2 separate regions of the Homo sapiens genome follow, and region 1 is linked to region 2. The links come from fine-mapping of genetic effects on gene expression. A gene starts in region 2. The other region holds a variant in brackets. All regions are shown on one strand. Distances are from middle to middle. Region 1 overlaps POMGNT2 (protein O-linked mannose N-acetylglucosaminyltransferase 2 (beta 1,4-)). Region 2 holds the start of POMGNT2 (protein O-linked mannose N-acetylglucosaminyltransferase 2 (beta 1,4-)).

Region 1 (8,493 bases), 25 kb after region 2:
CTCCTGTTTTTAAAACTATCAGATCTAGTGAGACCCATTCACTATCACGAGAACAGCACAGGAAAGAACCCCCCCCAACCCAAGATGCAGTCATCTCACACCAGGTCCTTCCCACAACATGTGGGAATTATGGGAGCTACAAGATGAGATTTGGATGGGGACACAGAGCCAAACCATATCAGATAGCCTAGACTTCCACCTTTGCCTAGGGGTAACCAGCTGCCCCACACCCTCCCCACTTGATGGGAAGCCTAGACTTTCACGACCGCCTAGTAGTAACATACGTCCTTCACTACCATAGTCCTCTTGGGGCCTAGACTTCCATCCACACCCCAGGGTGTCATTGGAGGCCAACTGCAGAGCCTGGGTTTTGACACCCTGACACACACTCTGTGCTGAGTATCCCTCCCCCTCCCAGCCACGATGGTATTGGTGGAGGCTGAGTAGGGAGCCTGGATGCCCACCCCCGCCCAACAGTAAAGAGTCAATGCTCTCCTTTCCCCCACCAGTACAGTTTTAACAGAAGCTACTAAAATAGAAGATTTAAGTAAGATCCAGAGTATCATAACATTATGACCGAAATGTCCAGGATAAGTTTTAGCAAAAAAAAAGAAGTTATAAAAACTAAATGGAAATTTTAGATATGAAAAATAGAGTAAGCAGAATTTTAAAATTACTGAATGGGCTCAATCAGGAATAAAAAGGACACAGGAAAGAATCAGCGAACATGAAGCCAGAATGATAGAAATCATCCAGTCTGAACAACAGGGAGAAAAAATACCGGAAAAAAATTAACAGAGCTTCAGAGATCTGTGGGACAGTACAATTTTTTTTTTTTTTTTTGAGACGGAGTCTCGCTCTGTCTGTCACCCAGGCTGGAGTGCAGTGGTGCGATCTCGGCTCACTGCAAGCTCCACCTCCTGGGTTCATGCCATTCTCCTGCCTCAGTCTCCCGAGTAGCTGGGACTACAGGCGCCCGCCACCATGCCTGGCTAATTTTTTGTATTTTTAGTAGACATGGGGTTTCACCATGTTAGCCAGGGTGGTCTCGAACTCCTGACCTCGTGATCCACCCGCCTTGGCCTCCCAAAGTGCTGGGATTACAGGTGTGAACCACCGCCCCTGGCCAATACAATTTTTTTTTTTTAATCTAGCATTGGTGTAATTGGAGTCCTAGGAGAGCAGTGTGGGGCTGAAAAAGTTTTCAAGGAAATAATGGCTATTTCCCACATTTGGGGGAAGGCATGAGCCTACAGATTCAAGAATCTGAGCAAACCCCAAAGAGGATAAACCCAAAGAAACCCACACCAAGGCACCTCAGAGTCAAACTTTTGAAAACTCAACAAAATCTTAAGAGCAGCAGGAGACAATGCATTCCCTCCAGGGAAAAACAATTCGAAGGGTAGCAGTTCCTCATCAGCAGTCACAGAGGCCAGAGGAGGTGTCACAGCATCATTTTTCACATACTGAAAGAAGGAAAATCTGTACCCCAAATTCTATACGCAGTGAAAATATCCTTTAGGAATGAAGCTAAAATCAGACATTTCGACATGAAGGAAAACTAAGAGAATTTGTTGCCAGGAAGTTGACCTTAAAAGAATAGTGAACTAACAGAAGTTCTTCAAAGAAGGGATATAGGAATGGAAGGAAACCTGGAACATCAGGAATGAGGGACGAACATAAAGAGTAAAAATATGGGTGAATATAATAGATGATCCTTTCCCTCTTGAGGAAATCATACTTGACAGTTGAAGCCAAAATTACTGTCTGATGTGGGTCTCATTATATGTAGAGGAAACACATAAGACAATTATAAAGGAACCTAGGTGGAGGTAAAGTTTCTACACTTATTCGAAACGTAAAATGTCAATACCAGTAGACTGTGATAAGTTACAGATTATAGTATGATGCCTAGAGCAACCACTAGAAAATCTATATCAAGGGATATACTCAAAAACACTACTGATAAATCAAAGTGGAATTCAAGTAATTCACAAGAAGGCAGGAAATAAAAGAAACAAATAATGCAGATGCCTGAGCCATACTCCAGACCTACTGAATCAGAACCTCCAGGACTGGTGCCTGGGAATATGGATTTTTATTTAGCAACTACTCCTGAGGATTCCAGTAATCAGCCAGGCTTGAGAACATCTGGAGTAGACCAGTATTTTTTAAACAGTAAGTTGCCAACCTGGTGAGTAGGTCGGAAAGTTAATTAAGATGATTATGGGCAGGTTTTTTGTTTTGTTTTGTTTCTGTTGTTGTTAATGAACTTAGAATACAGTGTACTAGAAAAAAAAAGCTAGAATGTATGATACTTGGTCACGGTAATTTTCATTTCCTGAAGTTTGGAGGTGGGGAGTATATGATATATTCATATGTGTGGGCCCAACCTTTGGATAAGAGTAGGCCAGAAGAGATCTCATGCCTCCAGGAATGACCTTCAACTAAGTAATGCCCAACAGGAGTTGATAGACATGTATCCCAGCTTCCATACTATATCCAGCATATGATCATGGGAGGAAGGCTACACATGGCATTAACTGCTCATTAATGTACCCTGTATGTGTTGGCTTTGGTCCCTTCTCTGTTCTCACTTTCCCATTCCCCTACACGTGTTTCATGGGATAATTTCTCAAACTGTTTTGATTCAAATCCTTGCCCCTGACTCTACTTCTTAGGGAACCTAGCTAAAGACACCTTCTCTTTCTAGGCAAGATGCACTTGGATTCTTTTCATTGCAGGGAGGCAGGAATTGCATCAGGACCTAGCCACAAGGGAATAAAGGAGCAGCTACTCCCTCCCGGTGCAGTGCCCTGCAGGTGTCAGCTGTTACCTGTGCTGCTCCTGTGTCACAAAGGATGAGCTTCTTCAACTGTCTGAATAATCCTGGGTCCCAGAGCAGGCATGATACCCTTCACAATATCGCAAGAAGAGGGAGTAAATGCTTACCCCTAGCCAGGCCTCTCTGTCAGTGTGTGTATATGGGAGAGGGCATTTAAAACCCTATTGGTTTTTTTTGCCTCAGTACACAAAACATTTTTCAATGATGATACCCAGATACAATTATCTTACCACTGAGGGGACAAGTTTCTACCCTCCTCCTAAGGGATTCTGAAAGCCAGCAGGCATGATTTCTAAAGGAGCTTTAAGCAGGAGCAAAGCTTAGCTGACCATACGTGTGTGTGTCTCTCAAAGGCGGCATACTGGGGTCTTGGTGTGCAACCTGGGAACAGTGTTCACAGATCTCCAATGCCAGTTGTTCTCATTTAAGGAAAAGTCATTACCCAGAGTCCAGGAATGTCAGGCCCCTGCAAGGGATTTTCCTATGGCCTGTCTTTCCTATGGCCTCTCTTTGTTAGCTTTTGCTGCAGCAGTGCTTCATCACAAACAGCCCCAGAATTTCAGGGATGTTTAATCAGCTGTTGCTCAGCCCTGATGTCTATGTGTTGGCTGATCTTGGCTGCGTTTGGCTGATCGCACTGCTGCTCTTGGCTGGGCCCACTCAGTCATGAGGGATCAGCTGAACTAGAACAGGGCATGGCCGGAGCAGTTCTGCTTCATGCGTATCTCGCTCCTCTTGGGGCCAGCAAGTTAGCCTGAATACATTCTTCTTATGGCAGTGTCATAAAGAGGGCAAGGCCAGCCCAAACACTTTCCAAACCTTTGATTATGTTCTGTCTGCTGACATCTCACTGGCCAAAGCAAGTTAAATGGCTAAGCCCAAAGTCGGGTGTGGGGATGCACTTTCCAACATGGAGGCGATGGGGAGGGAGAGAATATTTTAAACAATGGTCTAATCTACCACGCCTACCAATGTGCACAATGGCTGCAAGGATCCAGTGCTGTAGCGGGCACACAGAGCCTAGCTACCGTGCCTGGCACATAGCAGGAGCTTGTAATGATGCCAGGAAGACTGCCAATTCCTTTTTCTTTTCCTTCTCTCCTCCTGCAGGCTTTCACCAGTTCTCAGGATGCCCATAGGGATGGGTGAAGCCTGCCTGGCCTGTGGTGCTT[C/T]CCAGTGGCCGTCATCTCATTAGGGCCCCACAGTGGCATTAGGATGCACCTCTCGGCGGTGTTCAACGCCCTCCTGGTGTCGGTGCTGGCAGCGGTCCTGTGGAAGCATGTGCGGCTGCGTGAGCATGCAGCCACACTGGAGGAGGAGCTGGCCCTCAGCCGACAGGCCACAGAGCCAGCCCCAGCACTGAGGATCGACTACCCGAAGGCACTGCAGATCCTGATGGAGGGCGGCACACACATGGTGTGCACGGGCCGCACGCACACAGACCGCATCTGCCGCTTCAAGTGGCTCTGCTACTCCAACGAGGCTGAGGAGTTCATCTTCTTCCATGGCAACACCTCTGTCATGCTGCCCAACCTGGGCTCCCGGCGCTTCCAGCCAGCCCTGCTCGACCTATCCACCGTGGAGGACCACAACACTCAGTACTTCAACTTCGTGGAGCTGCCTGCTGCTGCCCTGCGCTTCATGCCCAAGCCGGTGTTCGTGCCAGACGTGGCCCTCATCGCCAACCGCTTCAACCCCGACAACCTCATGCACGTCTTTCATGACGACCTGCTGCCACTCTTCTACACCCTGCGGCAGTTTCCCGGCCTGGCCCACGAGGCACGGCTCTTCTTCATGGAGGGCTGGGGCGAGGGTGCACACTTCGACCTCTACAAGCTGCTCAGCCCCAAGCAGCCTCTCCTGCGGGCACAGCTGAAGACCCTGGGCCGGCTGCTGTGCTTCTCCCATGCTTTTGTGGGCCTCTCCAAGATCACTACCTGGTACCAGTATGGCTTTGTGCAGCCCCAGGGCCCGAAGGCCAACATCCTCGTCTCAGGCAATGAGATCCGGCAGTTTGCACGGTTCATGACAGAAAAGCTGAACGTGAGCCACACAGGAGTCCCCCTAGGCGAGGAGTACATTCTGGTCTTTAGCCGAACCCAGAACAGACTCATTCTGAATGAGGCAGAGCTGCTGCTGGCACTGGCCCAGGAGTTCCAGATGAAGACAGTGACAGTGTCCCTGGAGGACCACACCTTTGCTGATGTCGTGCGGCTGGTCAGCAATGCCTCCATGCTGGTCAGCATGCATGGGGCCCAGCTGGTCACCACCCTCTTCCTGCCCCGTGGGGCAACTGTGGTAGAGCTCTTCCCATATGCTGTCAATCCCGACCACTACACTCCCTATAAGACGCTGGCCATGCTGCCTGGCATGGACCTCCAGTATGTAGCCTGGCGGAACATGATGCCAGAGAACACAGTCACACACCCTGAGCGGCCCTGGGATCAGGGGGGCATCACCCATCTGGACCGGGCTGAGCAAGCCCGTATCCTGCAAAGCCGTGAGGTCCCACGGCATCTCTGTTGCCGGAACCCCGAGTGGCTCTTCCGAATCTACCAGGACACCAAGGTGGACATCCCGTCCCTCATTCAAACCATACGGCGCGTGGTGAAGGGCCGGCCAGGACCACGGAAGCAGAAGTGGACAGTCGGCCTATATCCAGGCAAGGTGCGGGAGGCACGGTGCCAGGCGTCAGTGCATGGCGCCTCCGAGGCCCGCCTCACTGTCTCCTGGCAGATCCCATGGAACCTTAAATACCTGAAGGTGAGGGAGGTGAAGTACGAGGTGTGGCTGCAGGAGCAGGGGGAGAACACCTACGTGCCTTACATCCTGGCTCTGCAGAACCACACCTTCACTGAGAACATCAAGCCCTTCACCACCTACCTGGTGTGGGTCCGCTGCATCTTCAACAAGATCCTCCTGGGACCCTTTGCAGATGTGCTGGTGTGCAACACGTAGCGAGCAGGCCACAGCCTGGCCTCGGGAAGGTGGCTCCTGCAGTTCAGCGTCCCTGGGCCCATTAATCCCACTGTGGAGACTTCTGGGAACTATTTATTGAGCAGGCCTGTGCCTCCACATCATCTTGTTGTCTCTGGGGTGTGGTGTCACAGCACTCCTCTTTGCCCTAGAGATAAGGGACCTGACTTCCCCTTCTCCCATCCTGAACATTTGTACCCCTGGAGAAGTTCCTTAGCAGGGAGGAGGAAGAGGAGAGGAGGAAGCAAAGAATCACAAGGAACCTCTGGCTAGGTGATCCTGATGTTTCCTACTGAGTTTTTCTGGTATCCAGATTTCTGGAAACCGAGTAATCATGTACTGTTTGATTGGGTGGTTCATCTGCTTCCATCCCAGTGAAATTTACCTGTAGCCCAGTGAAGGGTGTGTTTGGAACATTCATTAAATGATTCTAAGCATCTTGGTCAAGTCTTCTTATTGGATGGGAGGAAGGGGAGCTGGTCGTCAAAACCCAGGTGCCCTTTAATCTTGATTGTTAGCTAGGGAGACGTGGCAATGGGAAAGCGCCCAGGATGGCAAAGTGAGCAAGCTGGTTGGATTTCATCTTGACTAGCTGGACTAATATCACAGTTCCACCTACATGGGATAAAAGCCTAGAAGTAGGTAGGAGAGGGCTGAGGGGAGGAAGAGCTGTATCCACCATGGGTTTTTTTTTGGGCTCAACTAGACATTAAGACTCGCAAGACCTGGACAGATCATACCTGGCATCAGAGTTTCTTAGAAGGATGGAGAGAGATGCTCAGCATGCCAGCAGGGCCATGTCAGCAGTTCCCTTCCACAGGAGCAGTCCTTACATCAGTACTCCTGAGGGCCACCTTGATTCAGAAGCCCATGCCCCATAGGAGTCAATGTGTTTTCAACAACCCACAATCAGAGTTCCCAGGGTCCCTCAAGGGACATGCCCAGTTATGAGTTTCTGCACTTAGGGAAGCCTAAGGCCATGGTTTCTTACCAGATGGTATAGCTTATTCTTTGTCCTTCCAGCCCAGGTGTAGCTTATCAATCAGAGGTCAAAAACTCCCATGGGCAGTTTGGCCTAATACTGTACCTGACATTCAGCTAACTGGCTTGTCTGGCTTCCATGGGAGCAGAGCTAGAAAGTTAGCCCAAGATAAAATCTGTCCTGAAGAAAGAGGAGTTTTGGCCTTTTATTGTTGGGGAGACCTGCTGCAGGTCTGACTCCTGTAAGGGGGAGAGGGAGAGAAGCTGGGGAGAGGAGGTAGAGCCTCAGGCTGTAGCTCAGTGCTGAGAACCTCTCAGCAGGCTGATCGGGGAGTTTTGAGCCAAAGGTGTCCATTAGATAAGTATTCCCTCCCACCCGCCGATGCTAGTCGTCACCTGGGAGCCGCAGTGGGAAGTGTGGCCTCAGCATCAGTACCTTGGTGGATTCAGCATGGCAGCTGAGCCATCCCTTGTTCTCTGCTGCAGGAGATCTGAATGGTGCATTTTCATGGTCGCCATGGATCTTTATGACATTCCTTTCATCCAGAATATCTTTCTCCCTAACTGTAGCTTCCATCTGCTGCCACCATAAACTGCCATGAGAATCCACACATCAAGACTCAGCTCAAAGCCAGAGATCTCATACACTGCTGGGGCTGGGGGAGTGAAATGGTACAACCACTTGGAAAACCATTTGGCAGTTTTTACTAAAGCTGAGCACTTAGTTGTCCTATCTCTCAGCAATTCCACTTCTTGAGATATATACCCAAGAGAAATGAGTGCTTATGTCAGCAAAAAGACATGTCTTAAAATGTCCATGGTTCTACTCTTAATGGCCAAACACCATAAACAATTCAAGTGTCCATCAACAGGTATATTCATACAATGGACACAACAATTTTAAAAAGAATGAAGTGAATCTCAGACAACATTGAGTAAAAGAAGGCAGACCCAAAATACTTACTGTATGGTTCCATTTGTATGAAGTCCTAGAACAGGAATACAAACTTATGGCGATGGAAGTCAGAATGGTGGTTACCGGGAAAGGAGGTAAAGACTGGGATGGACACAAGGGGGTTGTGGGTTGGCAACATTGTGGTCTTGGATGGTGGTTGCACCGTGGACATTGAGGAAAGCCATCATCCTGCTTACACGGTACATTAGTGCACTCACTCACCTCTGTGCTTTCTGTATGGCACACCTTGATTTAAAAGGAAGACCACTTAGCCCAAGGGCCAGCTCTCCTGAAAACCCAGTTTGTCACACCCAAAAAGCCTTAACTCTGCTGGCCCCGCCACTGTCTCCCAGGAAGCACTTACCTCTCCGCAAGACCTTGCTCACAGGCTGGGAGCTCAGTGAGGGTTTGTGTCATGTGGGTCACAGCCAAGCGAAAGCTCAATGAATGGTTCCTTGCCTCAATGAATATGTGTATCTCTGCCTTTGTCCAAACTTTTTTACAAATTGGGAATCCGCTTTATGTGAAATTTTGCCCCCCTCTTTTTTTTCCTCTTTAACATTAAGACATGAACACTCTGCCATGTCACTGATGACTATTCTTTGGAAACAAGACTTTGGTTAGCTAGAGAACGTTGTGTACAATCACTAGGAAATTAGCCTCCTTCCCCCAGGCTCCATGGAGGAGCTGGATCCATGCCCAGCAGCCCAGGCCACCCCTTGATAGCACTGAATAG
Region 2 (8,493 bases):
TACCCATTGTTATGGACTGAATGGTATCCCCCTGCCCTCGAATTCATATGCGGAAGCCCAAACCTTCAATACGTCAGAACATGACTGTACTTGGAGATATGGCCTTTGAGAGGTAATTGGGTTAAAATGAGGTGATTAGGCTCATTTTTGGGTTAGGCCATAATCCAATCTGACTGGTATACTCATAAGAAGAGGAGATTGGGACACACAAGAGACACCAAGGATGGGCATCCATAGGGAAAAGGCATGTGGGGGCTCAGTAAGAAGGCGGCCATCCTCAAGCTATGGAGAGAGGCCTCAGAAGACACCAACCCTGCTGACACCTCGATCTTGGACTTCCAACCTCCAGAACGGTGAGAAGTAAATCTCTGTTTTTTAAGCTGCCCAGTCTGAAATTTTGGTATGGCAGCTCTAACACATTAATACACTCATGCAGGTCCTATCCATGTAACCTGAGCTTCCTCACAACATGGTGAATCTGTTCCCAAGGCAACCAGAGAGAGACAGAGAGAGGATGTACCACTTTTATGACCCAGTTTCAGAAGTCACATAGCATCACTTCTGACATTTTCTGTTCATTGAAGTGAGTTACTAAGTTATGCCCATATTTGAGGGAAGGGAACTAGACTCCCCCTTTCAAAGGAAAAATAGTCAAATAATTTGCAGACATATTTAAAAACCATCCCAATCTTTACCATCACCACCATGTTCATCATGCAGATTTTAAGATCCTAGCAGGCCAGCCAGGTGGAGGTGTGTATGCCCCAAGCAACTTGGATTGGGAATGTGGATCTGGAATTCAGGGCTAGAGATGTGGGTTTGGAAGGCATCCACACAGAGAAATAGAAAGGGAATATGACCCCAGACAAAGGGAGAGGGCTTGGACTTGAGGAATGCCTAACTCAGCTTGGCATGCATGAATATGGATTTAAAATGCTGGGAAAGACCTCAAAAAGCCAGCTACCTAAGCCACCTTGGATATTTAATAAAAAGAAATGTACTAGTTTTTTCCAGTCTACTAAAGCTTCCTACCAGCAATGCTCCACAGCCAGAATAGTTTTCAAAACATGATGGACTCAAAGATGATCAGTGTCTGCAAACTGGGTCCTAGGTGACTTACAGGCCATCCTGTTAGATCCTATCCAGGAGATTCAGCTTTGGCCAGAACCCAATCCCTGTCCACCTCCAGCAAGGGGCTGCTCTCTTGGACTGTTAGGTGCCTCTTTCTATCAGTGACTATGACTGGCTATCTTATAGAGACCCATAAACTCAACATAGGAGCTTTTTAAAACTTAGAAGTTTTTTAAACAACTTATATTTAAAATAACAAAACAATATATGTTCACTTCAGAATAAATTCATACAGGTAACCAGCAAGATGACAATAAAAAAACACCCATAGTCTTACCACCCTGGGTCATGGCTCATTGAAATTTTGCTGATATCCTTCTGTGCTCTGTGCTGTTACTGTGCACAAATATATTCTTTTTAAAAATGGGATCTTATGGAATATTTTATACTTTTTTCATTAAATATGATATAATGTGAAATGTCTTCCACTCTATTAAGTAAATACTATTTTGCAGCATCTTTTCAATGATTTCTGAGATGATCTGTGATTTTACTTAATCCTGCATGACTGAGGAATTAAGCAGTTTCCAAATTTGTTTTTTTTCCTACTTTTTATCTTGAAATAATTATAGATTTGTGAAAATCTATAATAAGATAGTACAGAGAGGAATCTCTTCATCCAGTTTCCCCCAATGGTTACATTGTACGTAATTATAATACAATATAAAAATCAGGAATTTAACCTTGATAGAAAGTTTGTGTGTAGTTTTAGTCATTTTATCACATGTGTAGATTTGTGTAACCACTACCACAATCAAGACAAAGAACTATTTCATCAGTACAAAGGCTTCCCTTCTGTTACCCTTATATATTCACACCTACACCCTGTCTTCAACCTCTGACAACCACTAATATTTTCTCCATCTCTATAGTTTTGTCATTTCAAGAATGTTATACAAATGGCAACCAGAGTATGTAACCTTTTGAGACTGACTTTTTTTCACCCAGCATAATGCCCAAGTTGTGGCATGTGTCAATTGTGCCTTTCTATTGTTGAATGATATTCTTTATATAGATGTAATCACAGTTTATTTAACCATTCACCTATCGAGGGGCATTTTGTTTGTTGACAGTTTTTGACAATTACAAATAAAGAAAGTAGGAACAATTGTGTACAAGTTTGTGTGTTAACATAAGTTTCCATTTCTCTGGAATAGATGCTCAGGAGTGTGATTGATGAGTCATATGGGAAGCATATGTTTAGTTTTTTAAAAGAAACTACCATGATATACCCATCTGTGAGTAATATATGAGAGATCCAGTTCTGTGCATACTCACCAGCATTTGCTATTTTATTTTTTAAGCTGTTTTGTAGTTGTTGTTGTTGTTTGTTTGTTTTTGAGATGGAGTCTTGCTCTGTAGCCCAGACTGGAGTGCAGTGGCGCGATCTCGGTTCACTGCAACCTCCGCCTCCTGGGTTCAAGTGATTCTCCCCTGCCTCAGCCTCCTGAGTAGCCGGGTTTACAGACGCGCACCAACACATCCAGCTAATTTTTGTATTTTTAGTAGAGACGAGGTTTCACCATGTTGGCCAGGCTGGTCTTGAACTCCTGACCTCGTGATTCGCCAGCCATGGCCTCCCAAAGTGCTGGCATTACAGGCATGAGCCACCGCGCCCTGCCTTTTTAAGCTGTTTTAAATAGGTGTATGGTGATATCTCAGCATAGTCTTAATTTGCATTTCCTTTATGGCTAGTGATGAACATCTGTCCTTATTTGCCATCTGTATAACTACTTTGGTAAAATATATATTAATGTCTTCTGTATATTTAAAAACTTATGATCCAGGATACAGTTTATCTTAATATATATACCAAGGTTGCTTGAAAAGAATGTGTATTCTGTTGGTGGGTGAAGTATTATGTAAATATCAATTAGATTAGGATGGTATTAGTGTTGATCTTTTCTATATCCTTGCTGACTTTCTGTCTAGTGTTCTATCAGTTGTTGAGAGAGGGATGCTGAAGTTTCCAATTACAGTTGCAGAGTTGTCTATTTCTAATTATGGTTCTATCATTTGATTTATTTATGTTAAGGCTATGTCGTTAGGTGTATCCACATTTAGAATTATGTCTTCTTGGTGAATTGAACCTTTTATCATTATATAATTATCCCTTTTTTATTCTTGGTAATTTTCCTTGCTGTCAATTCTACTCTCTCTGAAAGTAATATCACCACTTCAGCCTTTCAGTTTATTATCATCTAAACAACACTATTCAGCCTTTGCAGTCATCCACAATTATTAGAATTTCTTGGTTAGAGGCTTTTGACTACATGTTTTTAAAGGTTTTTGGCTGTATTGACAAATTGCCCTGCAAAAATTTACCAACTTAATACCTTAACATTTGGGCTAATTTAAAATAATCATAAATTAAAGTCAGGGCTTTCCCAATTTGATAGGTAGAAATCTTATAACTCTATGGAGGTGGAGTTGGTGGTGGTAGGTGCATCTCTAGATGACTTAAGTTCAAAAAAAGTCAAGAGATCTAAAAAAGAAGTCAAAAGATCTAAAATTCATAACTCAAGAAATAGGGGCATATGTATATTCGGAGAATCCGCGGGAATGCCAGATGCCACAGCCATAAGTAGCTGCCCTTGAGGACTGGACAGCCAGGACTGGACGGTGGGATAAGGTGACAGCTGGTTAATGGAATGGTGCCGCAGAGGACTGGTGCTTTTGTAAGTTCTCTGTAGCATTACAATTTTTAAAAGCATGTAAACGTATTAATTACCTTGACTTTACAATGACATTTGGTTGTTGGTTAAACTTGCATTTAAATTTATTATCAGAACTGCCATAACTGTGTAATCCTAACACTAAGTAAAACTCAGCCTCTCGGCGCAAATTATCACTCCCAACATTCCGCAGGCTGGTGGCGGCGCGGGCTGTCCTCGTACGCAAAACTACACCTCCCAGGATTCCGCGAGCCAAGGTTGTGGCCGGGGCCAGGGCAACCGAACTCGCGGCTCTGCGCAGGCGCACAGGCTCCGCGCCGGGCTCGCCCGCCGGGCAGGCGCACGGCGGACACCTGCGAGCCTGGAGGTGGCGGTCGCTGCGAACCCGGCGGCGCGGCCAAACCTGTGCTGGCTGCCTGGGCCTTCTGGGCCTCCTGGGCCAGAAGCTGGCGCTGGGGGCGGCGGCGGGGTGGGAAAGCGGCGCCGCCGTGGGGCCTCCTGGACGCGTCGGCGGAGGTGGCTTCGTCCCGCGGAGTCCAGGCTTCAGGTAAGACGCGCGCGCGCTTGGGGCTGGAGCGGACTCCGACACCCGCCTGGGACTTGAAGTGGAGGTGTCGAACCCTCGGCCCCCTGGAGGGGACGACGCGGTGCTGGGCCCCGGGGTGAGGGGGAGGTTCTAGGACGCCTTCGGGATCCAGGAGAGTTTGCAGAACTGAGGGGTGACGTGTGAAGCGAGCTGAGGGAGGCGCGGGAGGTGGGCGGGGCGGGGGTGGACCCTCAGGGTCGGGGGCCGGGGATTGGGGGTCGGGGGCCGGGGGCCGGGGACCTGGGCAACGCCCTGGGGCTTGCCAGTTCGAGCCCTCAGCTCGTGGCAGGCACTGGCGTCGGGTCCTCAGGCCCTTTTGCTTTGGGAGGTGATGGGTGGTGCACATTTGGCGGGGGTGGTGGGGAGCCACGCGAGGTGCGCGGAGCGGGCCTGGGCCTCCCCAACTGCCTTTGAAGGCAGAACCCCGGCAGGCCTGCAGCTGATTCCTGGGCGCTTTGGGGGCCAGTAGGGCACCTACCATGTGTGTCCGGTGGTAAGAGCTTGCCACGGCCTGCTTGGCAGTGCCAGAGTAGCCTCTGAAGAAGGAACCCAGTGAACTCCTGACTCCATGTGTGTGTTTAGGAACCCGTCTCCAGCTCACTGATGGGAACTCTCTGCTAAAGTATGTGACCGTCAGGCCAGAGTCTTGCACCAGGTGCAGGGCGACCAGTGTCTGCCTACTTTATTGCCAGCCAACACTTAGAGCGTACTCTTGGGAGAAGCAAGGCTCCGCGTGGAAAAGGATGACTTCAGGGTTATGGGGCGAGCTTGATAGGACTTAGTAGCTAAGAGCATAGACAGAGGAGGTTTCATTCACCAAATGTTTACTACAATATGTGCCCCGCCTTCAAATCTTGGTTCTCGGCTACTAGCGGTGTGCGTTTAAGCAAGTCACTTATCCTCTCTTAGCCTCTGTTTCTTTCTCTGTGAAGTGGAGATGAAAGTACAGTGCCTTTATCACGGGGTTGCAGTGGGGATGAAATAGTGCCAGGCAAGTCCTCAGCCCAGTATGTCTAACAGTAAGTGTGTGGCAAATATCAGCAGTCGTGGTGACTAACGACAGAAAGTGTTAGAGGTGCTTGGAGTCCAGGTTCATCTTTAATGGTACTAGCTGCCCTCTCTGGCTCTCATGAATCTTGCAGATCTTCCAGCTCATCCTTTCAATATTAATTTTGAGGAATCTCAGTCCCTGCAGAGCTAGGAAAGAGCATAGGTCCCCTCATCCCCAGGGGTGGTCAGCACGTTCCTTCCTGAGCCTTGGGCCCCTGCGAGAACGAGAAGGAGAGTGGAGATCTTCAGCAGAAAGGAGGGCATGGTGCTGGTGGCTGGGCCCACCGTGGCCATGTAAGCATGCTAGTTGGCAAGTTCTTGCTCTGAGCCTTGCTTTAGAAAATATTTAGCAATAAACAAAGCCTTCTAGTAAATATTGCACTAACTAGAAAATTAGATTACCAAATCCCCCATTCCAAGGGTCCTTGCCAATCTCAGCTTGGTTGTCAGTGGGATACTTTCCCCCCAGGACCTACCAATCACGTGATTCCCAGGGTTTCTTAAATTGGATGAAATAATGAATGTGAAAGGTGGAACCTGCAAATGTCATCACGGGCTTTGGAGTCCGTCTTGGTTTTGAATCCTAACCCCTCTACTTAATTGCTGTGTATCACTGGGCAATTCACTTAATGCCTCTAAGCATACCTTCTTAAATGTGAAATTGAATTAATAGCATTTACTTCAGGTAGTGGGGAATAAATGAGATAATGCGTGTAAAACAGTTAGCACTGTGCCTGGCTGAGAGTGAAAGCCAGTGAACAGGAGTTATTTTACCATTACGATTAATAATAATATTAGAAAAATAATTGTCAGACATGGTGTTTTGCCTTTGCTGTCTCTTTGAATTCACAAAACTACCCTGTGAAGTAGGTATAATTGTGTTTTTCAAGCCAGGAAGTGAAGGCTTGGAGAGGTAAAGAATTGGCCTAAGGTCACTTAGCTGCTAAGTGACAGGGATGGGAATTCATATCCTGGCATCTCCAGCTCCAGAACTGGTGCCATGTAATTCTCCTTCTCTGCTGCCCATCGTCCTTGCTGTTCTTGCATTCTTGAAGCCCAGTTATGACCTGGGGCAGCCTCCAGTCTTGCAGCAGGGAGTCTTCCCGCACCAAGTGGGTCAGAGGCAGGACCCTGCAGCCTGGCTGTGTGTTTCCTCTCTGTGGCTGGTGTTGGATGCATGGTGAAGCTGTAGGGGACAGTCCCTGAGTGAGTTCAGGGGAGGAGGTGTTAGGAAGAGGCAGCCCAGGCAAGCCCTGTCGCCTCTTTAGGGTCTCATCACTGGACAGCAGGGCTGGGTGAGGGGGCAGTGCTGGGTGAGGGTGCAGGCTGGGTGGGATCTGGGAAGCTTGTGTATGAGAAGAAATGCCTTCGTTTAGCTCCTGGGAAATGTTCTGGGGCTGCATAATTCTCTGAGCCTTATCTTTGCTTTGTGAGGGAGAGCAGCCCTTGAGCTGTGGATAAGGGAGGAGAAGGAGCCCTGGACTGAGAGCCAACATTCTGCCATTTTAATCCTGGCTGCCTGTGAGAGCTCACACTGCCTCTCCAGACCTCTTTTATGAAATAAAGAGTTGGAGGAAATCATTTCTAAGGGTTCTTGTAGCTCTAAAGGGCAGTGGTTTTGTAATTCTAAATTGATGGCCTAACCCTCTCAGCACAGTACCAGGGCACATGGGATAAATTATCACACTAGTATGTTACTTAGACTCTCCTTAGGGTGAGAGAATGGCCACAGCTCCCTAAGCCACCTGTCACAGCTGGGTACCCTCTGCCTGGCTGGGTGGGGAGGAATTACAGCAAGAAGCCTTGGGTTGCTAAGTTACAGTCCAGGGCCTGTGGTTCTACATTTCCAGGGCCACCACACCTGCTCTGCCCTTGACTAATAAAAACTCACTGCTCTACAGTCTACTCTGCTTATCTGCCATTGAGTGTTCCTCCAAGTCTGATGACAGATGAGCACGGTACTAAGAACAAGACCTTAGTGAGAGGCAGGTTCAAATCCTGGTGGCCCTTCTTGAGCTTTAAGACCTTAAGCAAGGTACTTAACTCCACTAAAACTTGGTTTTCTCATGTTAAAAGAAAATGGGGATAATATTGGTACTGCATTGGAGGGTGAGGCTTAAATGAAATAGGTCAGGAAAAAGGCTTAAGACAGCGCCTCTCGCATAGTAGGTGCTCAGTAAAGTAAGATGGTGAGACCATTCATCTTTATCCCCTACCCAGAGGCCAACATCCTTTTTTTCTTAGTTAACCTGGACAAGTCCTTTTGTTTTCTCTGGCTTCCCATGTCTGCACTGGTACATACTCCAGCACCTCTAAGAGAATCAGATCTTTCACTCTGCCAGTGGTGACTGCCATTGGTACAAGCTTATGCTACAAATTTATCTGTTTTCTCCATTCTGAAAAGGCTAAGAGAAGGCCCCTTCTTTGCTGTGTAGTTGCTCCTCAGCCCTGAGCTAAGCCTTAGGAAGGGACTGGGGACCTGGTCTGCTGTATTGCCACACCCAGTGATGAAACACACCCCGGGGTCCTTTGACAGTGGAGGTTTGTGGCAGGAATCATGGCACATCCTGGAGTGGCATCTGGAGTTGCCACAGTTGTGCTGGGTCCCAGAGCTTCCAAGAGAGTCACACAGTAGCCATTGTAAGGAACTGGAGATGCTGTCCAAATTTGCTCTGTTCAGGGGCTTCTTTCTCGGGGGACCTACCTCCTCTCTGCTGGCCTGCAGGGATGGCCATCTCCCTATGTCCTCTACTGGTGGCTGCTTTAGACCCAGACTCCATCCTTAGTCCATTTAGCTGTGGCCAAGAGACCTGGACTCGTTTCTTGCCACTCCCACACCACAAATGGTGCACTTTGTGTGGGAAGGAATGGGTTGGGGCAACTTGTCTCAAAAGGGAGCTTAGAGTCTGGCGGACTTCTCAGATTGTCCCAGAGCTTAGGCTTATGCATCATCTTAGCAAAAGGTAGGAACAGAATTTATTTAGCCTTTACTGATACTTATGGGGAGGGTTATTCTCAATTGAATTAGTTGTTTAACCTGGGCTAGATAGA

The links. PIP is the estimated chance that this variant, and not a neighbour inherited with it, causes the effect. A credible set is the group of variants that fine-mapping cannot tell apart.
Region 1: its variant is the best candidate, but not a certain one, in a credible set for the expression of POMGNT2 in nucleus accumbens (GTEx, PIP 0.62).

The regions. Positions count from the first base shown.
Region 1 is chr3:43,076,999-43,085,491 of GRCh38, reverse strand. It overlaps POMGNT2 (protein O-linked mannose N-acetylglucosaminyltransferase 2 (beta 1,4-)), which reads left to right. Exons shown (of 2, transcript NM_032806.6): 2 at 3,956-6,258. The coding sequence starts at 4,061. The coding sequence ends at 5,803. Among named protein-coding and RNA genes, the nearest start is that of POMGNT2-AS1, 4.8 kb to the left of the region's middle. RefSeq lists enhancers at 4,864-5,363, 5,364-5,865. The variant C/T (reference allele first, on the strand shown) is at 4,018.
Region 2 is chr3:43,101,696-43,110,188 of GRCh38, reverse strand. It overlaps POMGNT2 (protein O-linked mannose N-acetylglucosaminyltransferase 2 (beta 1,4-)), which reads left to right and starts at 4,110. Exons shown (of 2, transcript NM_032806.6): 1 at 4,110-4,353. RefSeq lists a silencer at 4,023-4,342.